2 linked regions of the Homo sapiens genome follow. The protein of the gene in region 1 purifies or fractionates together with the protein of each later gene. This does not show direct contact. Each region holds a gene or a part of one and is shown in the gene's direction. Other genes may lie near its edges.

What was found. The genes of interacting proteins can lie anywhere in the genome.
Region 2: the proteins of RUBCNL (region 1) and GRK6 purify together in Homo sapiens (affinity purification with mass spectrometry; 2 studies listed by BioGRID and IntAct, with this or other methods). This does not show direct contact.

What each region holds. Positions count from the first base shown.
Region 1 is NC_000013.11:46,335,245-46,342,290, reverse strand, and holds part of RUBCNL (protein associated with UVRAG as autophagy enhancer), read left to right. Parts: 3' UTR 1-7,046. UniProt on the Homo sapiens protein: Regulator of autophagy that promotes autophagosome maturation by facilitating the biogenesis of phosphatidylinositol 3-phosphate (PtdIns(3)P) in late steps of autophagy.
Region 2 is NC_000005.10:177,429,655-177,436,700, forward strand, and holds part of GRK6 (G protein-coupled receptor kinase 6), read left to right. Parts: intron 1-1,217; coding exon 1,218-1,313; intron 1,314-2,056; exon of another isoform or gene 2,057-2,282; coding exon of another isoform or gene 2,283-2,340; coding exon 2,341-2,453; intron 2,454-2,578; coding exon 2,579-2,656; intron 2,657-3,051; coding exon 3,052-3,152; intron 3,153-3,492; coding exon 3,493-3,585; intron 3,586-3,692; coding exon 3,693-3,756; intron 3,757-3,881; coding exon 3,882-4,022; intron 4,023-4,259; coding exon 4,260-4,450; intron 4,451-5,247; coding exon 5,248-5,285; intron 5,286-5,377; coding exon 5,378-5,467; intron 5,468-6,418; coding exon 6,419-6,627; intron 6,628-6,738; coding exon 6,739-6,876; intron 6,877-7,046.

The sequences.
Region 1 (7,046 bases):
TTGATTTTCTCAGACAGCACAGGCAGGCAATAAAGCGTCACAGATTGTCCCCTAACCCCATCCAGCCATGTGTATGAGTGTGTTTTATTCAATGGGATAGTACTGAGCACATGAAAGAAATGAATGACTTCTGTCAATCTCTTTTCATTCAGTCTTCTCATTCTGTCAATTGTTTTCTCATCCGCAGTGCCTCTGCCAGAACTGTGCTCACATCCATTATTTAAGCCAGATCTTTTCTAAGTATTATAGAAGTGTAGAGGCACATAGAATAAATAAAACCAGACTTCAAACAATGTTTCATTCTTGCCCATTGCTCCTATTCCCTGTTAAGAATCAAGGGTAAGAGTGGTATGTTCACATTCCTTTCTGAGGCAGATGTCTATATCTCCATTTACAGGCAAGGAAACTGAGGCCTAGAGAAGAGAAATAACTTTCCTAGGTTCCCACAGGAAGTGCATGATGGAGCTGGGGTTGACATTCAAGTCCACCTGCCTCCAAAGCCCATGCTTAGGCCCTGCTTCTTTTGTGGTGTCTTTTCAAGACAAAGGAGTAAAAACAACCTTAACTGGTAAGTGTTGCTCCAACTTGCAGAAGTGGCATTGGGCAGAGTGTTTTCTCACATCAGTGTTGATTTAAGGCAGCTGCTATGGCTCAAGCATTGCTTGAAGGGCTCTGTGCTCAGGGTTTGTATGTTTGTAAGGCACTGATGAGCCTGTGTGTGTTACATATCTTTGATATTAAGGAAGAGTGCACAGCAGTTGCCAGGAAGTGATGCTTTTGATTTTCTATTTTGAGGAAGAATGAGGTCATTTAAATAACTGCAGTATGGGATTTGTCTGAGACTTTGTTCCTCTCCAATGTGATAATAGAGGCTTCTTCCCAGGAAGGCACCTGTTAGGGAAGTGATCTTCAGCCCACATGGAGCACCCCATAAGGAAGTAATTAGTTGTGGCATATATAGCTGTTTAATGGGTCTTCCTGATTGTGTGGGTTTTCTGTTCAACTCTTCCTTGGCTGCCGGAAAGAAGATGAATGCTTGGTCAGACCATTACCCACTGTGAGGCATCAGTTGCAGTGCTGTAAAGGTCAGTGATTCATTTTCTGCCTCTGCACTCTTCACATGGGCAATTCCAGTAGTGTGTCATTTACAGTCATGATTCTCAACTGCAGGGAGGAAGTTACACCATCTCAAGGCAGAGGCTATAGGATGAGGAGGAGCAAGCCATCCCAAAGATGTCTGGTGTGTTGACCTGGGTGAGAATTATTGGCCACAACTTCAGATTAGATCCCAAATATGCCACTTTCTACCTACCCATGGTGACTTGGTGCTCTAGTTTGGCTTGTTTGACTCCTGCAAACCTCATGGTGAAATTTGATCCCCAGTGTTGAAGGTAGGCCTAATAAGAGGTGTTTGGGTCATGCGGGTGGATCCCTCAAGAATAGCTTGGTGGCACCTTTGTGGTGATGAGTGAGTTCTCACTCTTAGTTCCCATGAGAGCTGGTTGTTATGAAGCCTGGCACCTCCCTGCCCTCTCTTTGCCTCCTCTGTTTCCATACAAGGGGAGTCTGCACACGCAGGCTCCCCTTCCCCTCCACCATGAGTGGAAGCAGCCACAAGTCCTAACCAGAAGCAGATATTGGTGCGATGCTTGTACAGCCCGCAGAACCATAAGCCAAATTAACCTCTTTTCTTTATAAATCACCCAGCCTCAGGTATTCCTTTATAGCAACACAAATAGACTCAGACACTGGGGAAGCCATTTAAATTATCTAAGCCTCTGTTTGTAAAATGAGGGATATGACTCTCTGCAGTTGAGATAAGGATTAGAAATGAAAATGAAGCACCCACTAAAAGGCCTGGTACAAGCAAGGGCAAATGGTAATAATGAGGTCTAGACAGATTACAAACTGAGTCATACCCCTTATTTTCTGTATCTCTGGGTAAGTTACTCCCTGGGTCTCAGTTTATAATCTGTAATACAAGGATTAGAACAATAGCTACTGTTGTGGGTTGAATTGTGTCCCATGAAAGAATATGTTAAAGGTCTATGCTGGTGTCTGTGCTGTGGCCTTTTGGGAAGTAGGGTCTTTGCAGAGGTGGTTAAGTTAGGATGAGGACATAGTGCATTAGGATGAGTTTTGATCTAGTGACTGGTGTCCTTATAAGAAAAGGGAAATTGAGAGAAGAGAGAAGATGCAGGGAAGAAAAAAAGCAGAGGTTGGGGTGATGCATCTACAAGCCAAGGAGCACCAAGAATTGCTGGCAGCCCCCAGAAGCCGGAGAGAGGCAGGGGGCAGATTCTTCCTCAGAGCCTTAAAAAAAAAACCCAACATGGCTGACCCCTTGATTTCAAACTTCTGACATTGAGAATTATGAGAGAATAAATTCCTGGGGTTTTTTTGTTTTGTTTTGTTTTTGTTTTTGTTTTTTTGAAATGGAGTCTTGCTCTGTCACCCAGGCTATAGTGCAGTGGTGCGATCTCAGCTCACTTCAACCTCCGCCACCTGGGTTCAAGTGATTTTCCTGTCTCACCCTCCCGAGTAGCTGGGATTGCAGGCGCACGCCACCAGGCCTGGATAATTTTTGTATTTTTAGTAGAGACGGGTTTTCACCATGTTGGCAAGGCTGGTCTCTAACCCCTGACCTCAGGTGATCTGCCTGCTTCGGCTTCCAAAAGTGCTGGGATTACAGGCCTGAGCCACTGCGCCTGACCCTGTTGTTTTAAACCACCCAGAGTGTGGTCATTTGTCTGAGACTTCGGAATTCAAACCTGCTGGAAGGAACGTGGTAGACATGTCAGGAAGGGGTTTGACATTCAGTTTCTGCCCCCAGGTCTGAGCCTGCATGGCTGGCTTAGCCACCGTCAGATGCTACCTGCAGGAAGCCTTCCTGAACTCATCGCCAAAGGAGGGTGAAGTGTGTCATTTTTAGAAGCGTGCTTCCTTAAAACAAGCATTTAAGGATCTCTGTCTTTAAATAATTTCTCAACTGGTATGGGAAGGAAAACCGTAGTTCCCCTTTTTCACTTCACTAGAAACTAAAACAATACTTTTATGAGTAATGCTGAGGTAGCAGGCTGCAGACACAATTGGGAAGCTTCAGCACAAACATGAGAAATCGAGAACCTTTGCATCCTCGCATATCTGGGCAGCTCTCCAAGCCAAGGGGACTGAGGATTGAAGAGCTTAACCACATAGGTTAAGCAAATTGTGTATTTTTCCTTGCACTTTTTTTTTTTTTTTTGAGACAGGGTCTCGCTCTGTCGCCCAGGCTGGAGTGCAGTTGGCGTGATCTCAGTTCACTGCAGCCTCTGCTTCCCGGTTCAAGCGATTTTCCTGCCTCAGCTTCCCTAGTAGCTGGGACCACAGGCATGTGCCACCATGCCCAGCTAATTTTTTTCTGTTTTTGGTAGAGACGGGGTTTCGCCATGTTGGCCAGGCTGGTCTCAGAAGTGATCTACCCGCCTCGGCCTCCCAAAGTGCTTGGATTACAGGTGTGAGCCACCGCGCCCAGCCCTTCCTTGAACATTTTCTGGCCTCTGCTTGTGCTTCCAGGCTTCTTTCTCCCCAGGGCTGCCCCCTCTTTTCTAGTCCTGCCGTGTTCCTGCCTCCATGGTCTTGTTCTTCTTGCATCCCTTGCCTGGGATCAGGACTGCCCTTTCATCCTGGAAAGAGGCCCTGCTCTGGCCTTCCTCGGGCTACGTACATCCCCATTGGTGAGGAGACAAAGGGCAAGCGCACCCAAAGCCCCCACCCCTCCTGTTAGATCAAATGGAGCCCCAGACAGAATCCCCTGCCCTGTGGTCTCAACCCCACTTTTAGGGCTGCTCAGGTCTTTCCCCTGGTCCAGCCTCCTGAAAGTGAACTGCGCTGCTAAGACCAAGAGGCAGCCAAGGGGCAGCTGCTTGTAGGATGGAGCCAAAGTGGGAAGAGAGAGGGGCAGGGGTTGGCCCAATGCTAGCTATACCTGAGCCACCATGCTCCAGAGCAGAGCAGTGAGGAGTCAAAGATTTCAAAATTCAAACCTGCTTTCTCGGGTCCTGATGAAGGGATATTCACCATGGTAGGAAGATAAAACATATTTCAAATTTTAAATACTTGGATATATGGCATGTGGACCTGTATTTGTACTCTTGCATGGGCTCTGCAGATGGGAGTGGTGGGCGCTTCCCCTTTTCATCTCCCTCCCGATCTTGCCCATTCTTCAGCGTACTGCACGTGCACACACATGCTCCCTTCTCCTTACACTCTGATATCTGCATTTACCTCATTATTCTACTGGGGACAGCTCTCTGAACTTTTGGCAGCCTTTGATCCTTTCTATCTGCCCTTGAAAGTCTCTTGGAAGCTATGAGAGAGACTTTATTCTCCCTTTGCTCCTGCAGCCCCTGAAGGTCCACATTCCTGAGGGCCCTACCCAGCTCCCTGAGTGATTGTTTGAAATAGAACTACTCAGGAGTGCGGTGCCTGCATTGGACTTTTTACAAGCAAGAATAAACCTTTATTTTGTTCAGTTCCTGAGATTTTTGTGGGGCTGGTTCCTACAGTGTAACCCACCCTACTCTGACTAACATAAGATGTCCTGATACCTGTTGTCCAGGGGATGAGTACTGAGGGAACAGGTTTGTCACTGTCGTAGTCTGTTTAGGCTGCTATAATAAAATACCTTACGCTAGGTGGATAATAAACAACAGAAACTTACTGCTAACAGTTCTGGAGGCTAGGAAGTCCAAGATCAAGACAACAGCAGATTTGATGTCTATTGAGGGACCACTTCCTGGTTCATAGATGGCACTATCTCACTGTATCCTTACATGGTAGAAAGGAGAGAGAGCGGACCAGGCACGGTGGCTCACACTTGTAATCCCAGCACTCCCAAAGTTGAGATATATGCCTCAGGCTGAGACAGGCATATCACGAGGTCAGGAGATTGAGACCATCCTGGCCAACATGGTGAAACCCAGTCTTTACTAAAAATACAAAAATTAGGTGTGGTCGCAAGTGCCTGTAATCCCAGCTACTCGGGAGGCTGAGGCAGAAGAATCGCTTGAACCAGGGAGTTGAAGGTTGCGGTGAGCTGAGATCACGCCACTGTACTCCAGCCTGACAACAGAGTGAGACTTGGTCCCCCCTCCCTGCCCCCAAAAAAAGAAAAAGGAAAAGAGAGAGAGAGAGAACCCCCTGGGGTCTGTTTTACAAGGGCACTAATTCCCTTTGTGAGGGCCTCACCCTCATGACCTAATCACCACCTAAAGGCTCCACCTCCTAATACTGTCACAATTGGGGGTTAGGTCTTCAACACATGACTTTTGAGGAGATATAAATATTCAGTCCATAACAGTCATGCAGACATCAAAAACTATTCTACTCCTCTGAGTTATCCATATTATCTAGTATTCCTTACATTAAAAAATAAAGGAATATGCAGAGAGAAAAAAATTCTTTAACCTCACATTCCTTTCCAGTTCTACCTCTATGATCTTCTTCACAGCAACATTTTTGAAAGAACAGTTTTTAATGTTTGCCATCGCTTCCACACCTCTTTCTTCCTTTACCTACAACAATAGCATTTCCATCTCAACCATTCTACCCAAACCGTCAAGGTCACTAGCAATATCTAAATTCAGTAGTCACTGTATTGTCTTCACCTACCTCTCTACCACAGTTGCTTGCATTCTTCTTAACAAAAGAGAATACTGTTTTATAATAAAATATAATAAAATAAAAAAGTCTAGCTAAGAAAAGCTAGACTATAATGAATTTCATCATATTGTGGTGGTGATTATCTCTGTATAGTGGGATTAGAATAATTTTCAAAAATTTTCTTTGTAAATTTTACCATATAGACTAGATATCATTTTAAATAAATGATAGATCATTTAAACTAATGACAAATTACAGATGATAAATGAGATCAGTACTATACAACTTTTAAGAGTAATGGTTGCATTTCTACTGTCCATGCCCACAGTGGAGAAATCAGATTAGCTGTTGGGGACCACCTGAAACTCCATCTTCGTAGAGTCTGATGATGGAGGTGCTGCCTGGTACCCAAAGCTCCTGGTTTTCTTGGTTATTTAGTAAATTACTAAAGACCACGTGAACCAAAAAGAACAGGGCCGGCTGTCAGATAGACCAGATGGATGGATGCAACCATTCACCTTCCTCCTGGAAGCTTTGGAACCCGGAAACATCATGACATTTGTGATTTCTCCCCTTCCTCTGTAGACAGTGGTCTCTTTTCTTGGTCTCCTTTGTAGGTTTTCCTCTTCTTTCTCTGTCCATCTCTAAATAAAGACAGAGATTCCAGGGCTCAGTTTTGCCATCTCTTTTCTTCTCTTGGGATGGTCTTATCCAGTGAAATAGCTTTGAATGACTCTAAATTTGTAGCTTCAGCCCAGAGGCTGGTACTCAGCAGCCCACTGATAGCTGTGCTTGTATTAGTATTTCTTTACAGGCTTTTCCATCTCAGAAAATGGCACCACCATAGACCCAGTCGCTTAAGCCAAACACCTAGGAGTCATCCTTTCCCTTTCCCTCACTCCCCAGATCCAGTCCATCAGTAACTTCTGTCAGCTCTACCTACAAAATATATCTTAGTTGATGGCTCACCACAGCCACTGACATTATTACAGTACAAGCCACCATCTCTCTCCTGAACTTCTATTAGATTGAACTACGTAGCATTGCTGCTATTTTATAATTGTTGAGCTACCAAGTGGCAATTTCATGTGTGGTTCAACCTAATTAAAAACCTCCTATCTCCTCTTTCCACACTTGCCCCTCTATAGTCCATTCTCCACACAACACCAGAATGTTTATAAAGCATAAATCAGATCGTCTATCTCCGTGGATTAAACCCTCTGAAGACTTAATTTAAAATTAAGTTGGGTGGGTGCTGGCTCGTGTCTGTAATCCCAGCACTTTGGGAGGCCAATGCAGGAGGATGACTTGAGCCCAGGAGTTTGTGACCAGCCTGTGCAACATAGCGAGACCCTGTCTCTTAAAAAAAAAAAAAAAAAAAAAAAAACAACAACAACAACAAC
Region 2 (7,046 bases), on another chromosome or scaffold:
GAAGGCAACTTCTGCCCTTGTACCACCTGCCCTCACCCAGGCCAGATGGATACAGGACTAGAAAGCCAGAGGGGAAACTGAGGCCCAGCATGAGAAAGTGGTTGTCTAAGGTTGCCATGGCGTTGTTGGAGTTGGGGTTCACCTCTTGACTCAGCCCTACTTGATGTGGACAGTGTCTCCCATTCACTACGTAACACACATGGAGAAGCTGAGGTTCACAGATAGCGAGTGATGGGCCACAGTGTGAATCAGAGATTCAGACCCAGCTCTGGGAGGCTCAGGCCCCTTCCACCCTCCTCAACCTGGTGGCCCACAGGCCACACACATTTGGCTAGCTCCCTGACACATTTTATTTGGCTGCAGTGAGTTTTTTTTTTTTTTTAAACAAAATGGGGGCCAATATTTTATGTTAGAGTCTGCAATTCCGGCTGCTTTTGAAAAAATCAGAAGAGCTGGCCACATTGAGCCAGAAACCCTCCTAGCAGCAATCAAGCAATCAGCTGGCGTTCTCCTGCAGCTGGCCCTGTCAGAGAGGCCTTCGCTGTTCCTGGTCATCTCACATCTGGCCCACGTTTCCCACACCTGTTGGGCTCTGCAGGCAATCGAACTGCTGCTGTGACCTCAGCTGCTGCAGATGGGGTGTCTGCGAGGTCAAGCAAGACAGGCAGGGGACCGGGGAAGCCCCAGTGTGCAGGGGACGGGGAGTCCTGGGTGCCAGCCCCCTTGCCCCTGCCTCATTTGAGCGTCTGATATCTCTGATGTGGGGCCTGGTGATAGAGGCCTGGGAGCCTCCTTGTCCCCATGCTGCCCTGTGCGTCTCTCAGGCCTGCCCCACTGGCCTAGAATCTCTCCCTCCCGGGCCTTCTGCACTTCTCAGCACTGTGACGTCCTTCTCCCCTTTCTTCACCGGGGGAACTCCTACCTGGCGGGAAGCAACTGGGGCTGGACCCATTGTTGGAGCTACTTGGAACACTGTCCTCCCGCAGCGACCTCACTGCCTCTCTTGGCTCTCCCAGTGCAGGAGCCTGAAGCAGGAGAAGCACGTGTGTCCTGGAACGCAGCAAGGGCGTGCTGGAGCGTGCAGAGGGAAGGCCTGAGGTGCTGTTCTGCCTCAGCTCTGCCTTGGCTGGGCCCTAGAGGCCGTGGACCGCACTGAGGACCCAGAGGCAGTTCTGAGGCAGTGGGACTCGAGACCCAGTGTCCTATTGCTCCCACAGGTGGCGGTGGAAATCGCAAAGGCAAAAGCAAGAAATGGCGGCAGATGCTCCAGTTCCCTCACATCAGCCAGTGCGAAGAGCTGCGGCTCAGCCTCGGTGAGGCCTGGGCAGAGACTGGGGGTGCTGAGGCGAGGGGCCCTGCTGGGGCCGGGGGAGCCTCCCCTGAGACCTTGCCCCGGAGCAGAGGGGCAGACTTGGGGGCTCCAGTGAGCAGGAGGATGAGGACTGCACCATTCAGCCCAGTTTCAGTTCCTGGGCTTGGGACGGGTGGAGAGCAGACAGCAAACAGGGTCACACCGAGGGTGGTTGAAGCGGGTGTCGGGAATAGGGCAGGGGCAGATTGGGGCAGTTGATTCCACTTTGAAAAGGAGAGCCAGCTAGGGTGAGCAGGGCCCACAGGACAGAGGGAGCAGCAGCTGGGCCAGCCCACAGACTGACTGCCTTGGGACCCCCAGGCTGGGGCGTAGCCTCCCAGGCCCAGCCCTGAGGGGTGCCCAGCAAATCCTTGACCAGAAGCCCTCAGCCTGGGCAGTGTGACAGGGTTACTCCTGGGAGGGGACAGAAGGGCCCAGGACCCCAGTTCCTGCCAATCTTGGCCAAGGCCCCAGGTCTGAGCAGCACCCAAGGTTGCTGAGGCCCCCGGTGGCCTGCACGTGCGCAGAGCACACCCGGGCTGCTTCCACCTCCTGGGAAGGAGGCCCAGCTGAGAGCCTGCCGGAAGCCACAGCTTCCTCTCGCACTTTCGCCAGGCAGGCAGCAGGTGTGGGCCTGGCCCCGGCTGGGCTGGGCCGGAACCTCACGGACCGCACCCAACCCCAGTACCGTGACATACGCAAGTCGTGTAAATCAGGAGACAATGCAGGGAGGTGGATGGAGGCCTGGGCTCTGGAGCCAGACTCCCGGCTGTGTGACACTGAGCTAGTCAGTTAGCCTCTCTGGGCCTCACAGCCCCAAAACAGCTGTGCCCACCTGAGGGTTGTGGTGAGGGTTCTGAAGAAGATTGTGGCTACCACACTGCAGAGCTGGAAGCTGTTGTGGGGGCCCAGGGCCTGGTGGTGTGGGCACATGCCCCACCCATGTGCTCTCGGGCTGTGGACCCAGCAGCTTCCATCACTGCCAACAGAGCGTGACTATCACAGCCTGTGCGAGCGGCAGCCCATTGGGCGCCTGCTGTTCCGAGAGTTCTGTGCCACGAGGCCGGAGCTGAGCCGCTGCGTCGCCTTCCTGGATGGGGTGGTGAGTGCAGCCCAGCCCTGCCCAGCCCCGCGGGTGGCCGAGGTCCTGGCCCCATGTGCCCCTCCTCCCCACACCTGCTGCTTGCCCTGCCCAGACCTCCAGCTTCTTTGCTTTCCACCCTGCAGGCCGAGTATGAAGTGACCCCGGATGACAAGCGGAAGGCATGTGGGCGGCAGCTAACGCAGAATTTTCTGAGCCACACGGTGAGTGAGCAGCGATGGAGAGATGATGGGAGCCACCAGAGCCCCGTGTCAGGCACAGGAGTGACCACAGTGTCAGGCTTCTGAGGGTGGTCTCTTCATACAGACACATGTAACACACAGCCTGGACAGAGAGTGCCCTGGAGCTGCTCCAGGCAGCACGGCGGGCATGCAGCCCAGGGTATGGGCTGGGCTTGGGCCAGGCGGCCTCCCAGTGGCTCTGCTGCGCTCTGCCTCATGGGTGGGCAGCAGGAAGGACTTCAGCAACCAGGCTGGCTGGCACACCCTGGCCTGCAGCCTCTCATGGCACCAGCCCGAGTTGCCTGACCCCTCTCCCCTGGAAGTGGGCAGCCATCCAAGGGAGCCCCTGCACTGACCTGTCTGGGGCTTGTTCCCAGGGTCCTGACCTCATCCCTGAGGTCCCCCGGCAGCTGGTGACGAACTGCACCCAGCGGCTGGAGCAGGGTCCCTGCAAAGACCTTTTCCAGGAACTCACCCGGTAAGCCTGTCCCTGCCCACAAGCCTGGAATTATGCCCAGCGGAGGGGGCTTCTGGGGGCCAGGAAGACTGTGAACAGCTCGGTGGCTGGTGAGGGAGCTCAGCTGCCCAGCCCTGGCCTTGCCCCTGCTGTGTGACCTGAGCAGGCTGCCTCCCCTCTCAGTAGCACCCACAGCTTCAGCACAGGCTGTGTGTCTCCCCGCTCAGGGGTTAGCAGGAGGACTGGCCGACGACGATACCTGTGGGCTAAGCCTGTACAGAACGGGAGGCCTGGCCCAGCAAGCCAAGAGCCTGAGGTGTCAGGGGCTGGCGGGTGAGCTGGGCCTGCCTTTCCTCAACAGGCTGACCCACGAGTACCTGAGCGTGGCCCCTTTTGCCGACTACCTCGACAGCATCTACTTCAACCGTTTCCTGCAGTGGAAGTGGCTGGAAAGGTGAGCTCCCTGAAGGCTGGGCCGGGACAGGCCAGGTCGCCGGGGTTCTTCATAGGCCTTGGGCTCTCCTGCTCAGCCAGCGTTTGCTTCCCCACCCCTTGCCACAGGCAGCCAGTGACCAAAAACACCTTCAGGCAATACCGAGTCCTGGGCAAAGGTGGCTTTGGGGAGGTGAGTGGCCAGGCCAGAGCCCCTGGGAGAGTGAATAGGGTGGGTGTGTTGGGACCTGGACCACCCCCTGGATGCCCAGCAATGGCACAGCTGGCCCCCATTCGCCCCTGTCTGTCTGGCCACAGGTGTGCGCCTGCCAGGTGCGGGCCACAGGTAAGATGTATGCCTGCAAGAAGCTAGAGAAAAAGCGGATCAAGAAGCGGAAAGGGGAGGCCATGGCGCTGAACGAGAAGCAGATCCTGGAGAAAGTGAACAGTAGGTTTGTAGTAAGTACAGAAGGAGACTCTCCCTTCCCCTTGGCCACACTGGCGCACCGACCGTCCCCACCCCCCAGGCCCCACCCTCCCATGTGGGATGCCAGGAAGGGCGGGTTTGGGGTGTTGACACCAGGCTTGGGGAGCAGGCTGGGCCCAAGGAGTGGCACCGAGAAGGCTTTTTTGGGCAGCCCTGCCGCCAAGCGCCCCGCAGCTCCTGCCTGAGGGCTCGGGTCCCCTCGGCCACAGGTGAGCTTGGCCTACGCCTATGAGACCAAGGACGCGCTGTGCCTGGTGCTGACACTGATGAACGGGGGCGACCTCAAGTTCCACATCTACCACATGGGCCAGGCTGGCTTCCCCGAAGCGCGGGCCGTCTTCTACGCCGCCGAGATCTGCTGTGGCCTGGAGGACCTGCACCGGGAGCGCATCGTGTACAGGTGGGGAGGGCTCGGCCACCCCAGGGGCTTAGTCCTTCCCTGCCAGCGACTGCAGCTGGGCCTGGACGGGGGTGGCCAAGGCTGCCGATCAGGCCAGACTACAGAAGGACATTGGTTTGGGGGCTGTGGCACCGGCTTAACTCACACGCCAGGCCAACCTGAGTAGCCCAGACCTAGGCTTTGGGCTCTGCTGGACCCACGGGGTATCCTGACTTTGTCACCCCTCCACCCCCCACCGTGTGACCTTGGGCCAGGAGCTCCCTGCTCCCAACACTGCTTCCTTTTCTAGGAAGCAGAGACTATAATTCCTACTTCCCAGGTTGTTAGAAGTAGGCCCAACTTCCTACTGGAGGGGCCCAGTGAGCTAAGTACAGAGTGCCTGGCACATGGGGCTGGGTAAGAGAGAACCCTGGCTCTGATTGTTGCCGACTTCCTGTGAACCTCACAACAGCCTAGTCAGGGGACGGATGAGTAGTCCCATTTGATAGAGAGGAAAGGCAGAGTCAGTCACCAAGGGGTGGAGACTCCTTGGTCTCCACTGGGGAGGCCCCTCCGGGGTGGAGCTGTCTTCCACTCATCTAGAGAGTCCTGGGAGTCCTGGCTCTAGATCCTTCCTCTGCTCCCTTGAGTCCGGGCTGTTGCCAGGGAGAGCAGGGCTGTCTGTCGCCCTGGCAGCAAATGAGTCTCGCACCTTGCTCCACACCTGGCCCCCGGAGGCGAGTGAGCTGGGGGGGCTGGCCCCTTCTGACTCCCTGGCAAACTGAGCAGCATCTGACCCTGCTCTTCTCTCTGCACAGGGACCTGAAGCCCGAGAACATCTTGCTGGATGACCACGGTGTGTAAGGGTGCCTGGGGTGGGTCAGGGTGGGGTGAGATGCAGAGGCCTGGCCTGTTAACGGGTCCACCTGTTTCTCCACCCACACTCAGGCCACATCCGCATCTCTGACCTGGGACTAGCTGTGCATGTGCCCGAGGGCCAGACCATCAAAGGGCGTGTGGGCACCGTGGGTTACATGGGTGAGTCTTCTCTGCCCGGCCCACTAGCCTCCTGGGTTCCCTCACTATCCACCCACCCAGCCACACCCACTTCTGTCTGGGAGTCTTCTCTCAAAAGGGGCCTCAGTAGAAAGGGCCCATGCCGATGCTCCTCTTCTAGAGGTTAGGAGACCAAGACTCAGCCGGGGCCGCACACAGTTGTGAAGCCATGTCGTTCATTTGCTGAATACTTATTAAACCCTGCTATGGCTGAGCCTGCAGGTGGCTACCGGGGGATGGAGGAGAGAGACCCAAACCTGTTTCCGTGGCCCCAGTCCCTGCCCTCCCTGTGCCCATCTGTGAGGGAGGCCAGTGGAGGGGCCAACATGAGGCCCCACATTCCACCTGGAGACCGAGAGACGCAGGAGGCAGAGTCCTGGCTCTGCAGGCTCCGCCTCTTGCCGGTTGCGTGGCCTTGAACCAGACACTCCGCTGCTCCCGGCCTCACTCTGCTCCACTGGAAAACACTCATCATACCTGCCTCCCAGGGCTGCCTGGAAGATGAAAAGGGAGAGTTCAGGGAAAACTCCCCACAGGGCTGCCCTGGCAGGTAGGAGGTATTCAGAAAATAGGAGTTTCCTTCTTCTCGCTGATATTAAATCCAGAAGTTGCAAAATGGTAGCCACATGGGCCCAATTTGGCCTACATTTGTGTTTAAGTCAAACTGTTTTTAGTAAGCCAGATGGTTTCACATACAAAATACAGATTTCTGACTTCTTGTGTAAAATCTGAAGACCCGGGGACCCTGGGCGCGGCCTCCTGCAGGGCCGTATTCACCCCGCTTGATGGGGCCTGTGCTCTCCTACTGGCCAAGGTCCCCCCTGGCCAGCGGGTGTGAGTGTATCCCAGACCTAACGTGCACTGGCGTTCCTGGGGCCTGAGGGTCCACTGCCCGCCTCCTGCCCAGCCCTAACTCCCATGCCGCCCGCCCAGCTCCGGAGGTGGTGAAGAATGAACGGTACACGTTCAGCCCTGACTGGTGGGCGCTCGGCTGCCTCCTGTACGAGATGATCGCAGGCCAGTCGCCCTTCCAGCAGAGGAAGAAGAAGATCAAGCGGGAGGAGGTGGAGCGGCTGGTGAAGGAGGTCCCCGAGGAGTATTCCGAGCGCTTTTCCCCGCAGGCCCGCTCACTTTGCTCACAGGTACGGCAGCTCACAGAAGCCTGGCCAGCCAGGGCTGGGGTGGATGCACCTTTCCCTCCCTCCCACCCACTCACCTGCCTGGCCTGCCTGGCCGACTCACCCCTGCCACAGCTCCTCTGCAAGGACCCTGCCGAACGCCTGGGGTGTCGTGGGGGCAGTGCCCGCGAGGTGAAGGAGCACCCCCTCTTTAAGAAGCTGAACTTCAAGCGGCTGGGAGCTGGCATGCTGGAGCCGCCGTTCAAGCCTGACGTGAGTGCAGCCCACTCCTGCTGAGGGCGGGGCCCAGCCAGGGCTGGGGCTCAGGGGCTCTTGTAGTATCAGCCAGGATGCTTCCAGTGCAAGTGGCAGAAAAAACAATCTAGTGGCTTAGCCACAGAAATAAAGATAATTCACAAAAAGGAAAAGCCCCAGGATGGGTC